2 linked regions of the Homo sapiens genome follow. The protein of the gene in region 2 interacts with the protein of the main gene of each other region in a biochemical or structural test. Each region holds a gene or a part of one and is shown on either strand. Other genes may lie near its edges. The genes, in order: EIF2AK3 and DNAJC3.

Evidence for each region.
Region 1: the proteins of DNAJC3 (region 2) and EIF2AK3 form a complex in vitro, tested with the Homo sapiens proteins (one study listed by BioGRID).

Annotation. Positions count from the first base shown.
Region 1 is NC_000002.12:88,568,465-88,575,464, forward strand, and holds part of EIF2AK3 (eukaryotic translation initiation factor 2-alpha kinase 3 isoform 1 precursor), read right to left. Parts: exon of another isoform or gene 6,983-7,000; coding exon 6,202-6,982; exon of another isoform or gene 6,050-6,201; intron 2,578-6,049; coding exon 2,410-2,577; intron 1-2,409. UniProt on the Homo sapiens protein: Metabolic-stress sensing protein kinase that phosphorylates the alpha subunit of eukaryotic translation initiation factor 2 (EIF2S1/eIF-2-alpha) in response to various stress, such as unfolded protein response (UPR).
Region 2 is NC_000013.11:95,791,828-95,795,711, reverse strand, and holds the end of DNAJC3 (dnaJ homolog subfamily C member 3 precursor), read right to left. Parts: 3' UTR 724-3,884; downstream 1-723. UniProt on the Homo sapiens protein: Involved in the unfolded protein response (UPR) during endoplasmic reticulum (ER) stress.

The sequences.
Region 1 (7,000 bases), on a different chromosome or scaffold from region 2:
GTCCTTAGCAGTAGAAATTATTAATTTATTAAATCTCAACCTTTAAATATACACCTTTTTAATAATCTGACAAAATGGAAAATATTCAGAAAAACATTTATGCTCCATACCAAAGTACAATAGTTGTCTCCAAGTTTGATACCTTGGATATGCTAATAACCCTGATCCAATCACTAAATAGTGTATGTATTAAAACGACAGTATGTACCCCATAAATATGTACAATTATGAGTCAATTTAAAAAACAAACTAATTTTAAGAAGTTGAGACCTGCTGATGTAAGCATAGATTAGCTTGTGAGTATCATTAGCATTTGTGCAATTATTTGAGTTACAATATGCTCTAGCTGCTCTTTTCATAGAACACCATTTTGACTTGAAAGAATAATTGGTAGACAAACTACAGTTATTGAGACTTGGATACTTGACAGAGAGTTTTTTTTTCGAGATGGAGTCTTGCTCTGTCACCCAGGCTGAAGTGCAGTGGTGCAATCTCGGCTCACTGCAACCTCTGCCTCCTAAGTTCAAGCAATTCTTGTGCCTCAGCCTCCTGGGTAGCTGGGACTACAGGCATGCGTTACTATGCCCAGCTAATTTTTGTGTTTTTACAAGAGACGGGGTTTCACCATGTTGGCCATGCTGGTCTCGAACTCCTGGCCTCAGGTAATCTGCCTGCCTCGGCCTCCCAAAGTGCTGGGATTATAGGTGTGAGCCACTGCGACTGGCCGAGGGACACTTTCTTAAAGATGAACAATGAGACCGGGCATGGTAGCTCACGCCTGTGATCCCAGCACTTTGGGAGGCTGAGGTTCAAGGATGGCTTGCGGCCAGAAGTTCAAAACTAGTCTGGGTAACACAGCAAGACCCCATCTCAAAAAAAAAAACAAACAACATTTTTTTTTTAAAGAGAAAAAAAGATGAACAATGTGAGAATGGCATTTCAAGGAAAACTAACAGTATTTGTTGCCAATGTTAAAAGTTGAGCTTTTAAGTGAAAATTAAAATTTTGGAAGATTTCAGTCTACCAGTGGGAATTTGATAGCCTCCTAATATGTACATAAAGCCTTTTCTGGTGAGATTGGTGGTTGTATTAACCAAAGTGACTTTTTATATTACATAATGAACTGTGATGACTTTTGGAATAGTTGCCAAACTTAGGGAACCAATAGTTTCCAAATGACTAATGCACAATGTAAAGTCAAGCATGGGTAAAAAGATCCATTCAAAGTACAAAATGGACCAAGGGATGTTAAAAGTACCAGAGTACAAAATATTCATGAATGGTTTTAGATTCCACAGTGTAAATGACTTCTAAGAAACTATCATTTACTAAGTTTTGATATACTATCAAAGACAAAATATCTACAATTACTTGAAATGAAATATTGCTCTTTTTTCCAACTACATATCTGTGCGAGGCCAGATTTCCTCATGTACTTCAGCCAAAATAACATACTGCAACAGATTGAACACAAAAGCAGATAGAAGAATGTAGCACTTTTATAAGTTAGCTTTAAAGAGACTGGCAAAAATGTAAACAAATGTCACTCTAATTTTTTTTTTTTGCAGGGGAATTGGTGCCTGTAATTTTTTTTTGTTTTAGAAAATACTTATTTTTCATAAAAATATCTTAAGATGTGATAGGTTTCATTGTTATTTAGTTGATTTAATAAAGTTTTATAAATTTCTCTTTTAACTTCTAATATAACAAATATCGATAGATAAAATTTTGTTAAGAAAACCTTTTGGGTTCTCAGTTATTTCTACAAGTGTAAGTATGTACTGAGCCCAAAACGTCCGAGACCCGCTGCTCTAAGCATAGAGAAGCTTGTGAAGATCATTTGCCTGGTGGTGGCTGAGCATGCTCGCCTGATGCTTCCAGGATGCCCTGCTCCCCCAGCTCTTCCAGTCCCTGCCCTGATTACAGTGCTTTTCCTGTGAAGGCCAAGCAGCCCACAAGGCAACACCTGCCGGCCTGTGTGCCTCTATTTCCTACTGTGGTACATGCTGGAAGTTGCCTATGAGTGACCACAAAGGGCAGCTCAGTATAGTACCTCTGGGTCTAGCTGGCTCTGAAAACAGTTCCAACACAGTCTACACAAGGCAAACGAGTTAAGTTTGGGAGGGTGGCATTCAAAGTCTCTTTCCAAATTCCTGGTTGCTGTCAGGTGCTTGTTCAGGGGGTGAGTGCATTTTATGTGTTGTATTTTTCTTAATCCAGCCCCAATTCAGGTTGTAGAAACTACATCTTAGCTGTGTCACTATTCCACTACTGGAACACTACTGCCAGTTTTCATAATTTTCAGACTTACTGGGTTTTAGATTACTGGGTATTTTAATGAAAACATGAGAAGAGATTCATCAGGTACATCTGCTGCTGTGCTAGTAAGTAAAGGTCTGAAAAACTCACCTGCTCTGGGCTCATATACAGTTTGGTCCCTACTTGTCCTGTGTGTCTGGCATAAGCTGGCATTGGGGTCAGAACCGTCTGCTCTTCCTCATCCTGGTCCATTGCAGTCACTAACCCAAAGTCTCCAACCTTGACCACATCATCCATTGTAAAGAATATGTTGGATGGCTGGAAAGAATACAACAGACAAAAGTACAGTGGGTGTGCATGGAGGCGAAAAAGTAAAGAGAATTATTTAAAAGACTACAAAGAAAAAATACAACAAACTAGATATTTTCAAGCATATTTCTTTTTAAAATGGGCTAACAGGAAAATAGTGACAATTTTTCTGTGCCAGACAAGTACTGCTAGTAAAGAAAAGGGAAGGGTAGCAAAGAGTGCTAGTATTTATTGAACATCTACTTAAACCCTTTGAGGTGCACATTCCCTAGGGATCATGGTACTTAATCCTCAATCTTATTATTCTATATATTCTTCCCAGGCAAGCATCTCTACACTTATGACTTAAAGCCTTAATAATTATAACTAATAATAACTAGTTCATAAATAGAACTTGCAATGTGCTAGGCACTGTTCAAAGCAGTTTACTACTACTAACTCATGTACTACAACCCCATTAGATGAGTACTAACCCCATTTTACAGACATAGAAAGTGAGGCCCAGAAGTTAAACAAATTGCCCAAGGTTACCCAACTAGCAAGTGGTGAAGCAGGGATTCAGACCTGAGCAGTCTGGCTCTATGAGGAAAGGACCTTGTGATCCACTGCCACGTGCCCAGATTTCAGTCCAGTTCTTGCTCTATGGTAGCTAATTACTATTTGGTGAATGAATGAAACAGACTGATCTTTTGGTTTGCGTCTGAGGGGGATATAGATTATCAGAAGGGATAAGAGCTCTTCACTACTACTCTATGCTGCCTCTCGTAAAACCTCTATGTTCTCAAGACTATATCTACTCCCAGATCTCTGCCCTGAGTTCTAAACTCATATTACACTGTTTATTGAATACATCTAACCAGAGGTCTCATGGGCTTCTCAAACCCAAGGTGCCCTACATGAAATACATCACCTCTCCCTCAGAGTCTACTCTACTCTGCGGGTAATATGACCACCATTCATAGCCCTTGAAATGAGGAAAAAGGAAGCCATTTAGCTCATGAAATTGAATTTCATCATGTTTCAAATACTGCCAGAAAATAACATTGCATTCCCAAACTCTAAAATACCATTAAACGATTTTGACTTGGAAGCATGAAGTTATTGTGTATAAGATCTATGGTAATAATCTGCAGCTCTCCAATAAATAACTTTGTACCAGAGGCAATAATAGACTATCCTGCATTAAATGTCATCTTTCTTCCCAACTCCCAACATCTGATGGCAGTTGTTATTTACTGAACCCTATAATAGACAAGCTTTTTGGCTCTCCAGTATCTATCTCCCTGTGCTTCCAGCAGAAGTATCTTGACTTTACTTTGGGAACTTCCTTCTTGCTGACTGTGCAGCAAAACCCCACGGTTAGTGTGGAAGGCATCCATGCTCTAAAAGTTGCTTACGCCAATCCATGGAATCCCATTGCCTGGCTAGGGATTGTTGAGGGATGGGTAGGTGTCCTTGGTTTAAGTAGAATAAAATTTCTGATAGTGGGAAAAAGCAATACTTTTCTCTCCACCCTCTACCCCACCAACTCCAAAAGACTTAAATAGAAACAAGAAATGGGGAGGACAGAAACCAGGTTCTGGCTAAATCACTTGATCTCAGCTAAAGCTTTACCTGAATTCTCAACAGTTTAGCCATGTGGGCCAACAGATTTCCTTTTCTGGTTAAGTCAGTATAAACACTTTTGAGTGCAAAGAAAATAAAATTCAAAATAAATGGTATGACCATCTAGAACATTCAGGCATTGTACTGAGACTATAACAGGTAAAAGAAACAGATATGGTTCATACCCCATAGAAACCACAGAATAAATAATCCAGGTGTGATGAGAATAATGAAGAAGGACCAGGTTTCTGTCAGAACAGTGTATATCAAGAGGAACTGAGAAAAGTTCAGAGTGGAGAAAATAGAAGACTAGAAGTTAGTCTGAAGAGGCAGGAGCCAAAGTCCTGAAGACAAAAATGTGACCAAAATATAACAGGGGGAGAGGGCCTAGAAGGTTTAACATTGAGCTCAAAGATTTAGGTCAGAACGTAGCAAAATGTACAGCTTTTTCACCCAGGAACAAAAATCTTGGCTTTTTTTTTTTTTTTGGTTGGGGGTGGCGCACTAGAAATCTTTAAAAGGAATTGTCTTCTATTTAGAAAGGAATAAAACTTTCTGATTTCTAGAAAAACTAACAGGAATATTAACTTTCTTCTTGCAATTTTTCTGGTGCATAGACAATTACAGAAAAATCTTTAGACAACATTGTAGCATTAAATGGATATTTACCAATATCTCATTTACATTATAAAATTAGCAGAAGAATATTCATTATTAGTGAAAACATGATTCATTGTCTTTCAAGTTGGCATTTGTGTGTACAGCAAGTGTTAAGTACAAGAAGAATGTGTATTTCAGCTAGCTGTTTCCCACCTAGTGATAAGCGTTTACTATATTCAAACCTAACTGCTAGTATTCTCTCAAATTAGGGGTGTGTGGTCTCCTGTAAACTGTCTTCTCCAATCCAACCAAATAATTCATCTCTGAACTTTTCATTCAGTGCAGAACAATTCTTGGCAATCAGTTTGGGCCCACGTCAAAATCACTGAAGCATAATGATTTATATGACTAAATAACAATTATATTAAAAAATAAGAATTATTTCTAATTCCTATTCTTGTTACCCTAAAACTCTTAAAATATACCCAAGAATTTGAAAACCTACTGCTGATTTTAGAAGAAAATAACTTGTGTCCAAATAGCTACTTTTGTGCCTGAAACAAGTCTGTTTTAAGTCTGAAAAGACTTAAAATGGATCCACATCTATCAAGACTTTAAGCTACTTTCATCAGAAAAGTATTTATACATTCACTCCACATCTACTGGTGATGGCTAAGAGTATATGGAATGTGGGAAATTAGTTAAATAAAAGTTCCATGTACTTATTTTTAGAAACACTACTACGGAAATGTCATGTTTTAGTAAGACTCTTTAATAATTTTGCATATTATATTACTGCAAAATTCACTACTGAATATATTGAAAATAGAATCCAAGGTTTTAGAGCTGTAAACAGTCATCTGTTAACTATTTGCTACCTTTCCCCATTCGGCTTCTTACCCCTTCCCCCAAAGTCTAAACAGTTCAGAAAAAGAAGCAAAAGTGTGGAGATTTGCCCCAATTCAAGCTGGCTAATGAAGGAACCCATGTCTCTCCTTCCATTCGGATCCCTTTCACCATGCTGCTTCAGAGCCCTGGAGGTATTGGTGTCAGGGTTACTCAAAACCATAGAAAAACAAAAACAAACAAACAAACAAAAAAACAGGCTATATCTGCTCATGGTGGATTTTACCTAAAGATTCTTTTTTCTTTTTTTTCCCTCACCTGGACTACTGAGAATACCTTTTACAGTAAAATGAACACAAACACATTACTGAAGACAATGAATGCATGGTTTGCCTAAAGTTTTCAGACATAAGACTTCTTATTCTTGCAGCAGGCCCCTTCGAGGCTACTTTCTCAGACCTCTGCTCTCAGATGCTTTTACTCTCCCCAACTCTTAAGGATCCTTCAGAGTACTGCAAGTACTGCTCTGAATCACAAAACGTCAGATTGAAACCCCAAGGGTGATGCTCCACAAATACAGACCTTGAGGTCCCTGTGCATCAGTCCTTTACTGTGAAGAAACTCCACTGCCTCTGCGATCTGCAGGAAGATGTGCAGACACACGCTCCTCTCTCTCTCCTCTATGGTACATCGTCCATTCATCCAGTCTTTGAGGTTTTCTTTTCTGCACAGCTGCATTTGAATGTAAAGATACACCTTTGGTGAACTGGGCTGGAGTTTTTCTGTGGTGTTTTTAGTGAGATCTAAACTTAAAGTGGTTGGTCTTGGAGGAGAAATAGACAATGTAGCTTCAGAAGAAGATTTGCTACTGGTGGGCTTGAAAGCAGTTAGTTTATTAGCACAATGGTTGCCAATATGCAATCGATTAGTTTTCGGCTCTTCTTTACTGGAAGCATTATCACAGCCAGAATCTTCAAATACTATTGAAGAGGAGGTTCTCTCCCTTGACCTTACATAAGGAGAAGCTTCAGAAGGACAAAGTTCAAAGGAGTGCCCCTCATCATTGCCATCCATAGTCCCATCTTCCACATCACAGTCTGTAAGGCAACTGTCCTGGAGGTTGTATGCTGCATCCACTGACTCACTGATGTCCTCATGGTCCATTCCTGAGAATTCCAGTGGTGAGAACTGGCTCTCAGATGAACTTGTCTGGTCACAGGAAATCCCTACTGAAAAAGACCTGCTTCTTTGTGGTGAAGGAGCTATGATTTCAATATGTTCTTTTGTAGCGAAAGGATCCATTCTGCGTATTTTAACTGATGGTGCATCCATTGGGCTAGGAGAGCTGAGTGGCCAGTCTGTGCTAAAAGTGGGAGAAATA
Region 2 (3,884 bases):
CTGGCCAAGATGGTGAAACCCCATCTCTACTAAAAATACAAAAAAATTAGCCAGGTGTGGTGGTGGGCACCTATAATCCCAGCTACTCGGGAGGCTGTGGCAGTTAATTGTTTGAACCAGGGAGGCAGAGGTTGCAGTGAGCCGAGATCATGCCACTGCACTCCAGCCTGGGCAACAGAGCAAGACTCCGTCTCAAAAAAAAAAAAAAAAAAAGGAAGGTTTGAGCTTTCTGGAAAAGTTCTGTATACATTTACATATCGTAGCTCTCCTTGGATCTTTCTTAAGATATGCAGAATACATTAACTGAGAAGGCAGTTCCTTCTGTTTGTAGCTGGAAATTTGAGATAGATAGGCTATAGTGTCCTTCCTTCCTCCCAACTTAGGACCTTAACAGAAATGTACAAATGGGGTATAAAAGAGAAGAGAAAATCTTCAGACAAAGCCAATTTAAGTGTTACATTTTAATAGCACTGAAATGGAAGACTTGTCCACTTTTTAAGTCCTTAGTTGTCCTAGGACTTTTGAGGGTTAAGAGATTTTATTTTAGCCCTTTCTGCTTTGTGTGTTCTGACCTTCCCTGTCAACTTGTGTAAAGGAAGAGCCCTTTTGTCACCTCAGTCACTGGTTTTGCGTGAAGCAAAGCTGGAAATAATAGACTTTTCCTAAGACGGACTTTCTTAGAATTTTATACTCAAGGACAAAAATGAATCAAAAGCAAGGAAATACTGATATGACCATAAATATTTTTATTAAATGTGAAAATACACGGGCATAAAAATAGTACCCATATTTGTAGACATGTCTGAGACCCATTTCAAATATTAGGTTCCTTTTTTATTAAAACACTACATTGAGATGGATTAAGTTACTTAGTCTTTTCTCATTCAAAACAAACTAAAACCTCACAGCAAGAGTAATATTTTCACAAACATCTCCAATGTTTACCTCCTCCTTGCTCGGCTTTCCACTGCAGGTAAGTGTTTCAGCCACAGACAAGTGCAACAAAACCGGTTACTATACACAAAGCCACGCAGTGGCTAATTTTACTCTTAAATCAATCATTCAGCAAATGAGATCATCTGTAAACAAACAAAAAAAACCCCCAAATAATCCCACCTCTTAACGTCATTTGAAATTACAGGATAAACTGCCACTAACAAAAAAGGAATGATCTGATTTAGAAAAAGGATATTCGTTGTTGGCAAATTAACATTTGCCTTCTTCCTTCCTTTATAAATTTGGAAAAGTCAACTACATTCAACAAAGTTGCGTGAACTTCTCTAGGTGATACCATTGCTGTGTGCTCAGTGAAAACTTTGCAACGCCCATCACCAGGGCCGTGTCTGTAACCTCACCAGGGAGCCATTTTATGTAGTTTTTTCATGGTAAATGTCAAAGACAACTTCTGACCCATTTAAAGGTGAAATTTTTCATCATCCATTGTGAGTAGAAAATGGTATCAATTTCAAATTGTGGTTTTATTGGCTACCTTTTTTACCAAGTTATGTTTTCTCTTAAACTGTGGGTAGTTTTAAAATTCCATTATCAGGGCAACAAAAATTTGTTTTCATACCAATACTTTAAAAAAGATTTTTAATACTGACTAAAGAGAAAGGCATTGTAGAATTAGTAGTACGTTACATCTGATTCACATTAGTAAACTGTCAAGATTTTTTTCAAGTTTTCATCTATTCATGGTAAGAAAGCACAAACTTTCAGAACTGAGGAATGAATTAAATTTTGTCTCCCGTTTTGGAACCTTTTCACAATGCTTCTAGACTGATGTGTCTAATACTTCCTGCTGGGCAAAATATCCACAAAGTACAGACCACTGATAACTCCACCCATGAAGCTCACCAAAAAGGAAAGAAGAGCAGAATACAACAGCTGTGGCTAGGGTACGCCTCTCTGATTTCACTTTTCCTGAAAGAGCCATAAAGGTTACCTGATGGCCAGGCGCAGTGGCTCACGCCTGTAATCCCAACACTTTGGAAGGCCAAGGCGGGCAGATCACAAGGTCAGGAGATCAAGACCATCCTGGCTAACACAGTGAAACCCCATTTCTACTAAAAATACAAAAATTAGCCAGGCATGGTGGTGCGTGCCTATAGTCCCAGCTACTTGGAGGCTGAGGCAGGAGAACTGCTTGAACCCGGGAGGTGTCCCTGCACTCCAGCCTGGGCAACAGAGCAAGATTCTGTCTCAAAAAAAAAAAAAAAAAAAAAAAAAGGTTACCTGGCACCTGTAGTCCCCAAGGGAAAATGAAAGTAGTATGGTTTTACAGTGGATAATGCTACCCTACAGTGAGACAGGCAGGGGGAATGACTATCTCTTTACACACCCAGGCTGCTTCTCAGTCACACATTAGGGTAAGCAGGAGTGACTGTCTCTCCGTTTGGGTGGACACCAGAAAACTGCCGACAGCCATCAAGGCTGAAACTCAACAGTTGTTACTTTCTTCATGAATCAGCGAAACAACAGATTGCAGAGAATTCATTTCCCTCCATGGCACTGGCATGTGGCACCAGAGCTGCTTCTCTCTCTTCACTGAAAACAGGCAAGTAACTGCAGGTCAGTTAAGATGACTAAGTAAATCCATGATAAGAATTTAGGAGCTGAAACTATGGTTGTTACAAGTGGAGAAAAAATGAAAATGCAAACAAGCCTCTGGGCAGCAGGTGGGAGGTGGCCAGGCCCCCACACATCTCCTGTGCGGCCCTTGACCCCTTGTTGTTGGCAACTGTCGTGCTCTCCAAGTGGAAAGGCAAGTGATTTGATATTTCCTTTTTTTTCTGACTCTATGTGAAAATTCTTTTCAAAGTAGGTAAAAGCCATCACTATATTTCAAAGAGGTCACAGTGACATCATATACAAAAGGAACCAGATTGAAAAAGATATTGCTGACATAGCCAGTAGTGAGATTACTAAAGAATAAACAGAAATGCCTTGGAAATTATTTTTACACCGGCTTGAATTGAAACATTAAAGCAAAATGAAAGCTGTAAGGTGTTCACTAGTTTTCCAAATGCGTTGTCAAGTTTATTGGTAAGAAATAGACTCCTAAATAGATGCAGAAAGCACTTAAGTGTTCTGCTCAATTCAACTATGTGATTTTTGTCTCTCAGTTAAAAATTTGTCCACCTATGTTTCAGGATATGACTACAGACGAAAACGATTTGTGCTTTGCTGTTATGGATGTCCGTGGTCAGGATGCCTCCCACAGTGAATTAAAATGCTTGATTTCATTAAGAAAAAAAAATTAGACCCTTTAATGGTTAAAACACTTCAAAATGCTTTGAGGCAGAAACAAAACCTTTCCAGAATAAAGGTAGCAATTCCTATCTATCTAAAGTAATTCCTTCAGCTTTCAAATGCAGCATCAAGAGTGCCATAAATATTCAATATTCTTGATTAACATTTTTTAGGGAAAAAGCATTCAGTATACAAAGACTGAATAGTTCACTTCTTAAATAGTATCTTCTTAAAAGGTAAGAAGAACATATCTCAAGAGGAGATGCCATCTTATTAAATGAAACAACAGTGGAAATATAGCCAGACCTGACTAACCTTGCCTGTATTTTCTTGTAGGCAGGAGAAAATCAGAGGCATCAAGATCTGGTAGAAGGGCCGGTCTGCTGTTTAACACATACCAGCAGACAGGTCCCACGTGGGAGGCACCACAGACCTTTAAGATAGGGTGAAGCCTTGATAGAAGGAGAAACAGAAGCTGCCCACTGTCTTTACTTAGAAGTGGAGAACATGGCATTCTGTATTTATTTATGTTGACTGCGCAACTTTACGTTTCTAAACCAGTCTTGTTACATGAAATTCCCTATAAAAACTCAGAACTTCAGTTGTTTAAAAAGTATTTCAATCTGCACTTC